Linked DNA regions of Homo sapiens. The protein of the gene in region 2 purifies or fractionates together with the protein of the main gene of each other region. This does not show direct contact. Each region holds a gene or a part of one and is shown on either strand. Other genes may lie near its edges. The genes, in order: RHEB and VPS4A.

Region 1 (3,811 bases), on a different chromosome or scaffold from region 2:
TAAAATTTAAATTATTAAAAAGTTGGCTTAAAAGTAGTGGTTGCTGGCCGGGTGTGGTGGCTCATGCTTGTAATTCCAGCACTTTGGGAGGCTGAAGCGGGTGGATCACCTGAGGTCTGGAGTTCGAGACCAGCCTGGCCAACATGGTTGGTCCTGTCTCTACTAAAAATACAAAAAAAGTTACCCAAGCGTGGTGATGGGCACCTGCGATCCCAGCTACTCAGGAGGCTGAGGCAGGAGGATAGTTTGAACCCAGGAGGCGGAGGTTGCAGTGAGCTGAGATGGCGCCACTGCACTCCACTCTGGGCAACAGAGTGAGACTCTGTCTTATAAAAAAAAAAAAAGAAAAAAAGTAGGGGTTGCTGAGAAGGAAAGGCCACAAGTTGGTAGACCTATTTACTCCTTATCCGCAGCCCAATACAGTTCAAAATGTCTCTAGAATTACTAATACCTGAAATTATTCTCTACAAAGCAACCTACATGAGCATTTGAAAATTAAACGCTACTTCTCTGCTTCCAATCCTCATTGCAATTAGAATAAATTCTCAACATTTTTTTTTTTTTTTTTTGAGACGGAGTCTTGCTGTGTCACCCAGGCTGGAGTGCAGTGGTGCAATCTTGGCTCACTGCAACCTCTGCCTCCCGGGTTGAGGCGATTCTCCTGCCTCAGCCCTCCTGAGTAGCTGGGATTACAGGCACGCGCCACCACACCTGACTAATTTTTTTTGTATTTTTAGTAGAGACAGGGTTTCACCACATTGGTCAGGCTGGTCTCGAACTCCTGACCTCATGATCCACCCGCCTCGGCCTCCCAAAGTGCTGGGATGACAGGCGTGAGCCACCGCGCCTGCCCTAAATTCCCAGCTTCTAACCGTGGCCCACAAACACCAGGCCATCCCTGCTCTGGTTACCACTCTGACCTCATCCGCCAACAGCCCCCGACAACCCATCCTGAGGCTCCAGTCACATCCCTTCTGCTCCTGGAGTTCCTGCCTGCCTTGGCCCCTTTACTCTAGCAACCCCCACTGCCCCCATCTCTGAATATATGACTCATCTTTGTCATTCTGATCTGAGCTCAAATGTTAGTTTCACAGAGAAACCTTCAAGACCACCCTAAGGTAGTACCCATTCCTTAAAAGTCATTCTCATAGCTACTGTTTTATTAAGTTATTTGGAATGATATTCATTTAGTGAACACTCCACTGAAGCCAGCACAGGGCCAGCCGACACATTGTAAACATTGAGATTTCTGAACAAATGAACGAAATTAAAGCGTAGATCTCCAAAGGTCACTCTTAGCCATTTAGATACTACAAAAGATCTCAATTTTATACAAATGAAATACAAAACACAGTTCAACAGAAATTAAGAAACAATTCAATTAGTATTTATTGGTACCTAATCACAGGCTTGCCTGTGATATAGGAATACAATAGTTTAAGAATTCCACAAATTTAAAATGAATTGTGTTGAAAAGAAACCATGTTATATATGCTAGCCTGTAAAGGAGAATTTAACTCAAAATACAGCAGAACTACTTCAGGTAACAAAAATAGCAAGAAGAAAACTCCTCTCATGTTATTGAAACTGAAAAATTAGAAGGAGTAAAAAAAAAACAAACTGTTATTTACACTGAATGCTACTGCTTAAAGAAATGAAATTTAATTAGAAAGAAAGAAGGGAACAAACTTCTTAAGGGCTTTTGCAAGGTACTTCTAAGGACTCCAGTGGGCTTTTTATACCCTTATGTGGGTAGGATAAGGGTTTGTGGGGTTTTTGTTTTGCTTACAAATGGAAAGAAAGGAAAGAAAGCGATCATTTTCTCCCTAAAGATATGGGCAAGAGTTACAAAGAAAAAAGGAAATAATATAATTAAAAAGATTTTTGCAACATTTTGTGTAGTAGAACTGGACTAAAAATAGTGAAAGAGGGGCTAAGTATGATACATGGGATAAGCTCCCCAAGCACTGGGCAACCAGGAACCCCTGGATCAGACAGTCCTCTGAACTGGCACTGGCCAAGTCTCGACAACCTGACTTGCGGGAGTGAAGGGACGGGGGAAAAGAGCCTCAGGAGTTTCCCGTGAAATTCAGGAAGCCACATTTGAACAGAAAAGAAAGTTACACACATTAAACAAGACAGCATGAGATCAAGTGCAAAAACGGAGTGAGAGAAGAGCTCCTTATTTGTATCACAATGGGCATACACTATTTGACAGGCTAAATTAACATTTCACTTGAAAACATAAGTAATCATTCCGGTAACAGACAATGTAGTCTAACCAAAATCACATCGCAGGTTGACAGCCAACTGTTGTTTTCATGAATAGTAAACTGGGATACCAGAATTTAAAACGTATTCCTCCAGGGTGGAAACTGGATTTTCAATCAGACTGGCCCTAGGAGAAAGGTACTGTTCATTAGCAGAAGTGGCACTGGAGAAAAACTACGTTTCCCTTGGGTCTCTCCTCCCTGGGGCTCTCCCGCCAAGGTGAGGTCATTAATTATTTAACTAATCCAGAAGGGATAGGAAGGCTATATTTGCTAACATGCTGTTTTTTGCCATTTCCATTAAAAAGTGCTATTATTAACTAGTGTTGAAATCTTGACAAGTCAGCATTAAATGCTAATGAATCTTCATAAATAAACCCCACCGCTCATTTTCAAGTGTTCTCAGTTCCAGTTGTAATTTCTGGCTTTAAGGAGTGTCTTCTGGAGACGTAGTTCAGATCTTTTGGTTAGGTTTTTCTAGTTTGTTTGCAACCACAAAAAGGCATTGGTGATCTCTACTGTGATCACCTTTAACCTTTTTCTCTCAATAACTTCATATATTTACTTTGGCTTTTGTCCTTAGCAAATTCAGGTCTGGAAACACTGTTACTCGCTTGCTGAAGATAATCTCACACTCCAGATCAACTCTTTGGAAAAATGTTACATGAAAACTACACAGGAGTGATCCCAAATAAATGGAAAAGTAGCCCATACTCAGATGTGTGTTTATCCTCAAACACAAATCACTCATTTAATGACATAAATTACTATAAATGGTTTAAAAGGCAGTATCTCAATTCCTACAATTAACTGTCAAATACTCTTCCTCCAAACCAAAACCCACCTTAACTTTTAAAAATAAAAATTATTTTAAAAAATTCTTCTGAGCTTTTATCAGGGAACAGCATTGTATTATTTTTTCCAATGATAAAATGGCACAGTGAGTTTCTCAGCTGGTATTTTCACTACAGAAGGTGTACTTTCAGGGGTGTTGACTCAATCTTATACCTCATGATTACTGCAAAATAGGCACTGTTTACAGAATTATTTTAAGTTTTCAGATTAATATTGACTTTGTTATCATGCTTATTCTCCTAAAAAATAACTTATTAGCCCGGTGTGGTGGCTCATGCCTGTAATCCCAGCACTCTGGGAGGCTGAGGCCGGTGGATTGCTTGACCCCAGGAGTTTGAGACCAGCCTGGACAACGTGATAAAACCCTATCTCTACAAAAAAAATATAAAAATTAGCTGAGTGTGGTGATGTGTGCATATAGTCTCAGTTACTCAAGAAGCTGATGTAGGAGGATCGCTTGAGCCGAAGGGTTGAGGCTGCAGTGTGCGTTGAGCGTGCCACTGCACTCCAGCCACGGTCTGTCCCCCCTCCCACCGACTCCCTACAAGCCCAGCATTTTCCCAGTTTATACATTGCTTGTTCATTGGGATATGATGGGGAAGACCAGATTTTCAATCTATTAACTAGTCTATCAAGGCATTCTGCAGAAGGGGGAGTCCATTAGAACCGATGTAATGCATCTAGGA
Region 2 (3,811 bases):
GCGTGGTGGCGGGCACCTGTAGTCCCAGCTACTCAGGAGGCTGAGGCAGGAGAATGGCGTGAACCCGGGAGGCGGAGCTTGCAGTGAGCCGAGATCGAGCCACTACACTCCAGCCTGGGCGACTGAGTGCGACTCTGTCTTAAAAAAAAAATTAGCCAGGCATTGTGGCATGTGCCTGTAATCCCAGCTACTCGGGAGGCTGACGCCAGAGAATTCAGAGAATTACTTGAACCCGGGAGGCGGAGATTGCAGTGAGCTGAGATGGAGATTGTGCCATCGCACTCCAACCTGGGCACCATCTCAAAAAAAAAAAAAAAAAAAAAAGAAGCTTCTGGCAGCTGCATTGTTTGACTGGCTTTTTTTTTTTTTTTTCCCCCAGACAGGGCTTCACTGTCTCCCAGGCTGGAGTGCAGTGGTGCGATCTTGGTTAACTGCAACCTCTGCCTCCCAAGTAGCTGGCACCATAGGTGCGTGCCACCATGCTTGGCTAATTTTGTGTTTTTTGTAGAGACAAGATCTCGCTGTTTCCCAGGCTGGTCTCAAACTCCTGGGCTCAAGCGATCCTCCCGCCTCAGCCTCCCAGAGTGCTGGGATTACAGGGGTGAGCCACCGCACCCAGCCTGGGCTGTGAGAGCCACTGCAGGTGGCCTCCCAGAGTATGAGGTGTGAGTCACCGCACCTGGCCTGGGCTGCTCTTTAAGTCCAGCTGAAGCACATTTCCCTTACGGCCTTCAGGAGAGGGCCGACCCGGATTCCCATCTGCTCCGCGAAGAAACAGGGCGGGTTATAGGAGTGTTTGCTGGGGGGGTCCTGAAGTGAGCTGCTGAGAGCATTGGCCCAAATGTCCCTGAAGTACTTGCTTGAGTCACACGGCACTGTTAAGCCAGGAAGGCTTCGTTCCTTAACCAGTGTGCAGGCAGCGGAGCCTGGACTTGCTGGGAGCACCTCTGTGCTCCAGGCTGAAGGGCCAGCTTGTGACTTTCCGTCTCCCTTCCCAGCAGTGACAGTGACAGTGAAGGGGATAATCCGGAGAAAAAGAAACTGCAAGAACAGCTGATGGGTAAGTGGCTCGCGGCCCTGTGGCAGCGGCAGGGGATGAGAGTGGGTCCGCTGCTGGGTTGGCTCATGCCCCTTGGCCGGGCCCGGGCCCGGGCCGGCCTCCCTCTCGCAGGTGCCGTCGTGATGGAGAAGCCCAACATACGGTGGAACGACGTGGCCGGGCTGGAGGGGGCCAAGGAGGCCCTCAAAGAAGCTGTCATTTTGCCAATCAAATTCCCACACTTGTTCACAGGTGAGAGTTGAGCCATTTCAAACCCCAATGTAAAAATTCCAGGCTTCCGCAGGGCTGGCACTCCGAGGCACCCGGGAGTCAGTGGCGACTCAGCCCCCGGGGCCTGCAGAGGGCCAGGCCTGGCTGCTCGCTGGTGTCCACAACACTGCTGTGGCTGGAGCTATGAGATGACGATCACGTCACAGGGTGGGGGCAGGATCAGGAAGCAGTGCCAGCCGGTGTCACTGTGCAAGGTCATGGGGTCATAGCAGGGGCACTGTGCAAGGTCATGGGGTCATAGCACAGGGCACAGCAGGGAATGTAGCTCCCATCACTTGTTTGCCAGTAGAGTCCGTTGTTTCACAGAATGCCCTGTTTTACTGTATGTATGGGACTCGAGACCCTCTGCTTTTCCTATTCCTTTCCCCAGTCAGGAGGCCTAACTTCTGTGGTTCTCTGTTGCAGGCAAGCGCACCCCCTGGCGGGGGATTCTGCTGTTCGGACCCCCTGGCACAGGGAAATCCTACCTGGCCAAAGCCGTGGCAACAGAGGCCAACAACTCCACCTTCTTCTCTGTGTCCTCCTCAGATCTGATGTCCAAGTGGCTGGGGGAGAGTGAAAAGTAAGTCGGCCACCAGGCCATGCTCTGCCAGCAGCCCCGGCACTGCTAGTGACCCAGCGGCCCACCCTGTGGAGTCACCTCTCAGAGGAGTGGTTTGGTTTTCAGGGAGGGTACCCAAGAGCAGTGTGTCGCTAGCTTATCGGCTGGGACACAGTCCCAACAAAGACAAGTGAAGGTGGAAGGGACCTGGGAGAGGTGAAGTGCTCCACAAGAGAAGGGAAAGGAAGTGAGGATATTTTTGGGGTCTGGGTTGCGGTCCCTGTTGGGGCAGTGTGTGGGGGACATGGTTCCCCACACTGACTCCTGTTTTGCGTGTGATGAGACGGGCTCGGAAGAAGGGGACTGACGTGTTGTAAGTGCAGAGCTAGCGCATGGGGCTCCTGGGATTGAGGCTCTGCGTTTGGGGCTGACACCAAGGTGTGCTCCTCCTCTTGGTGCAGTGTGGCCCGAGGGCTCCTCACCACCACGTTTTCCGCAATTCCGGCATGACCGTGGCCTGCGCCTCCCTGTGGGAAGGGTGAGAAGAGGGAAGTGCCGGGAGCCCAGGCGGGCACGGACGTGAACGTCTTGTCCTCACCCCCTTTCTCACCTTCACAGGCTGGTCAAGAACCTGTTTGAGCTGGCCAGGCAGCACAAGCCCTCCATCATCTTCATCGATGAGGTGGATTCCCTCTGCGGGTCCCGAAATGAAAATGAGAGTGAGGCCGCCCGGAGGATCAAAACGGAGTTCTTGGTCCAGATGCAGGGTGTGTGCCGGGCCCAGGGCCCCCTTGGTTCTTGTTGCACCTGAAGCCAACCCTGGGCTTTATTCTGAGCTGCGGCTGGATTTGGTTGTTCTCAGCCTCGGAGAGGCACTCCCCAGCTCCAGCCCCTCAGGGCACGGGTGGACTTCAATTCCCAAGAGGTGCCTGAGGCCTCTGCCTCACGGGCCACTCCACCCCTCCCATGGCAGGCAGTGCCATAGGTCTCACCTGGCACAGCCAGACCAAGATGTGGTTTAATCTCACTTGGGACCCTGCCAGTGGTGGGTGGCACAGGGATGGCTTCAATTGCTGACACACAAAGCCCCCGGGGTCTGTCCCCAGGTTTCAACTGACCCGTGCAGGTGTCCAGAGTCTGAGTCTTTGTCTCCCTTTCTCCACAGGGGTGGGGAATAACAATGATGGGACTCTGGTTCTTGGAGCCACAAACATCCCATGGGTGTTGGATTCGGCCATCAGGAGGAGGTGAGTCTTCCCCAGGAGAAGCCAGGGCTGGAGGCTTCCTCCCACCATGGTCACGGTCCGCCTGCTGCTGGCAGCCCGGGTGCAGCCTGGCCCCTTTTCCCTGGAGTCTTCCCGTCTGCCTGCCAAGCAGAGCCCTTTGTGAGGCTGGCTTGTTGAGGATGTGCCGCCAGCATCACTGGCCCATGAAATGCGTCCGTTTCACTCAAATCTTCGTGCCTCCCCTTCCGTGAATACCATTCCATCATCCGCTGTCAACTCCTGCCGTGTGCTGGGCTCTCTAGGTTTGAAAAACGAATTTATATCCCCTTGCCGGAGGAAGCTGCCCGCGCCCAGATGTTCCGGTTGCATCTCGGGAGCACTCCCCACAACCTCACGGATGCAAACATCCACGAGCTGGCCCGGAAGACGGAAGGCTACTCGGGCGCGGACATCAGCATCATCGTGCGGGACTCTCTCATGCAGCCCGTGAGGAAGGTGCAGTCGGCCACACACTTCAAAAAGGTGAGTGCCCGCGGCCACTGCTGAGAAAAATCTCATAGTAAGAGCGGGATGTTCGGTTTTTTTTTTCCCAGCTCCTGGTCCTGCTCCCCGGCTGCTCAGGTGACACAGTCTCTGAGGCCTCCTGGAGAGCCGAGGGCCAGTGCCATGGGGGCTGCACCCACTGTCCCCTCCCTGCAGCTCTTCTGGAGTGTG

Evidence for each region.
Region 1: the proteins of VPS4A (region 2) and RHEB purify together in Homo sapiens (affinity purification with mass spectrometry, with the first as the bait; one large-scale study listed by BioGRID). This does not show direct contact.

Annotation. Positions count from the first base shown.
Region 1 is NC_000007.14:151,492,288-151,496,098, forward strand, and holds part of RHEB (GTP-binding protein Rheb), read right to left. Parts: intron 1-3,811. UniProt on the Homo sapiens protein: Small GTPase that acts as an allosteric activator of the canonical mTORC1 complex, an evolutionarily conserved central nutrient sensor that stimulates anabolic reactions and macromolecule biosynthesis to promote cellular biomass generation and growth.
Region 2 is NC_000016.10:69,317,652-69,321,462, forward strand, and holds part of VPS4A (vacuolar protein sorting-associated protein 4A), read left to right. Parts: intron 1-998; coding exon 999-1,060; intron 1,061-1,171; coding exon 1,172-1,291; intron 1,292-1,735; coding exon 1,736-1,892; intron 1,893-2,489; coding exon 2,490-2,638; intron 2,639-3,036; coding exon 3,037-3,118; intron 3,119-3,399; coding exon 3,400-3,619; intron 3,620-3,811. UniProt on the Homo sapiens protein: Involved in late steps of the endosomal multivesicular bodies (MVB) pathway. Recognizes membrane-associated ESCRT-III assemblies and catalyzes their disassembly, possibly in combination with membrane fission.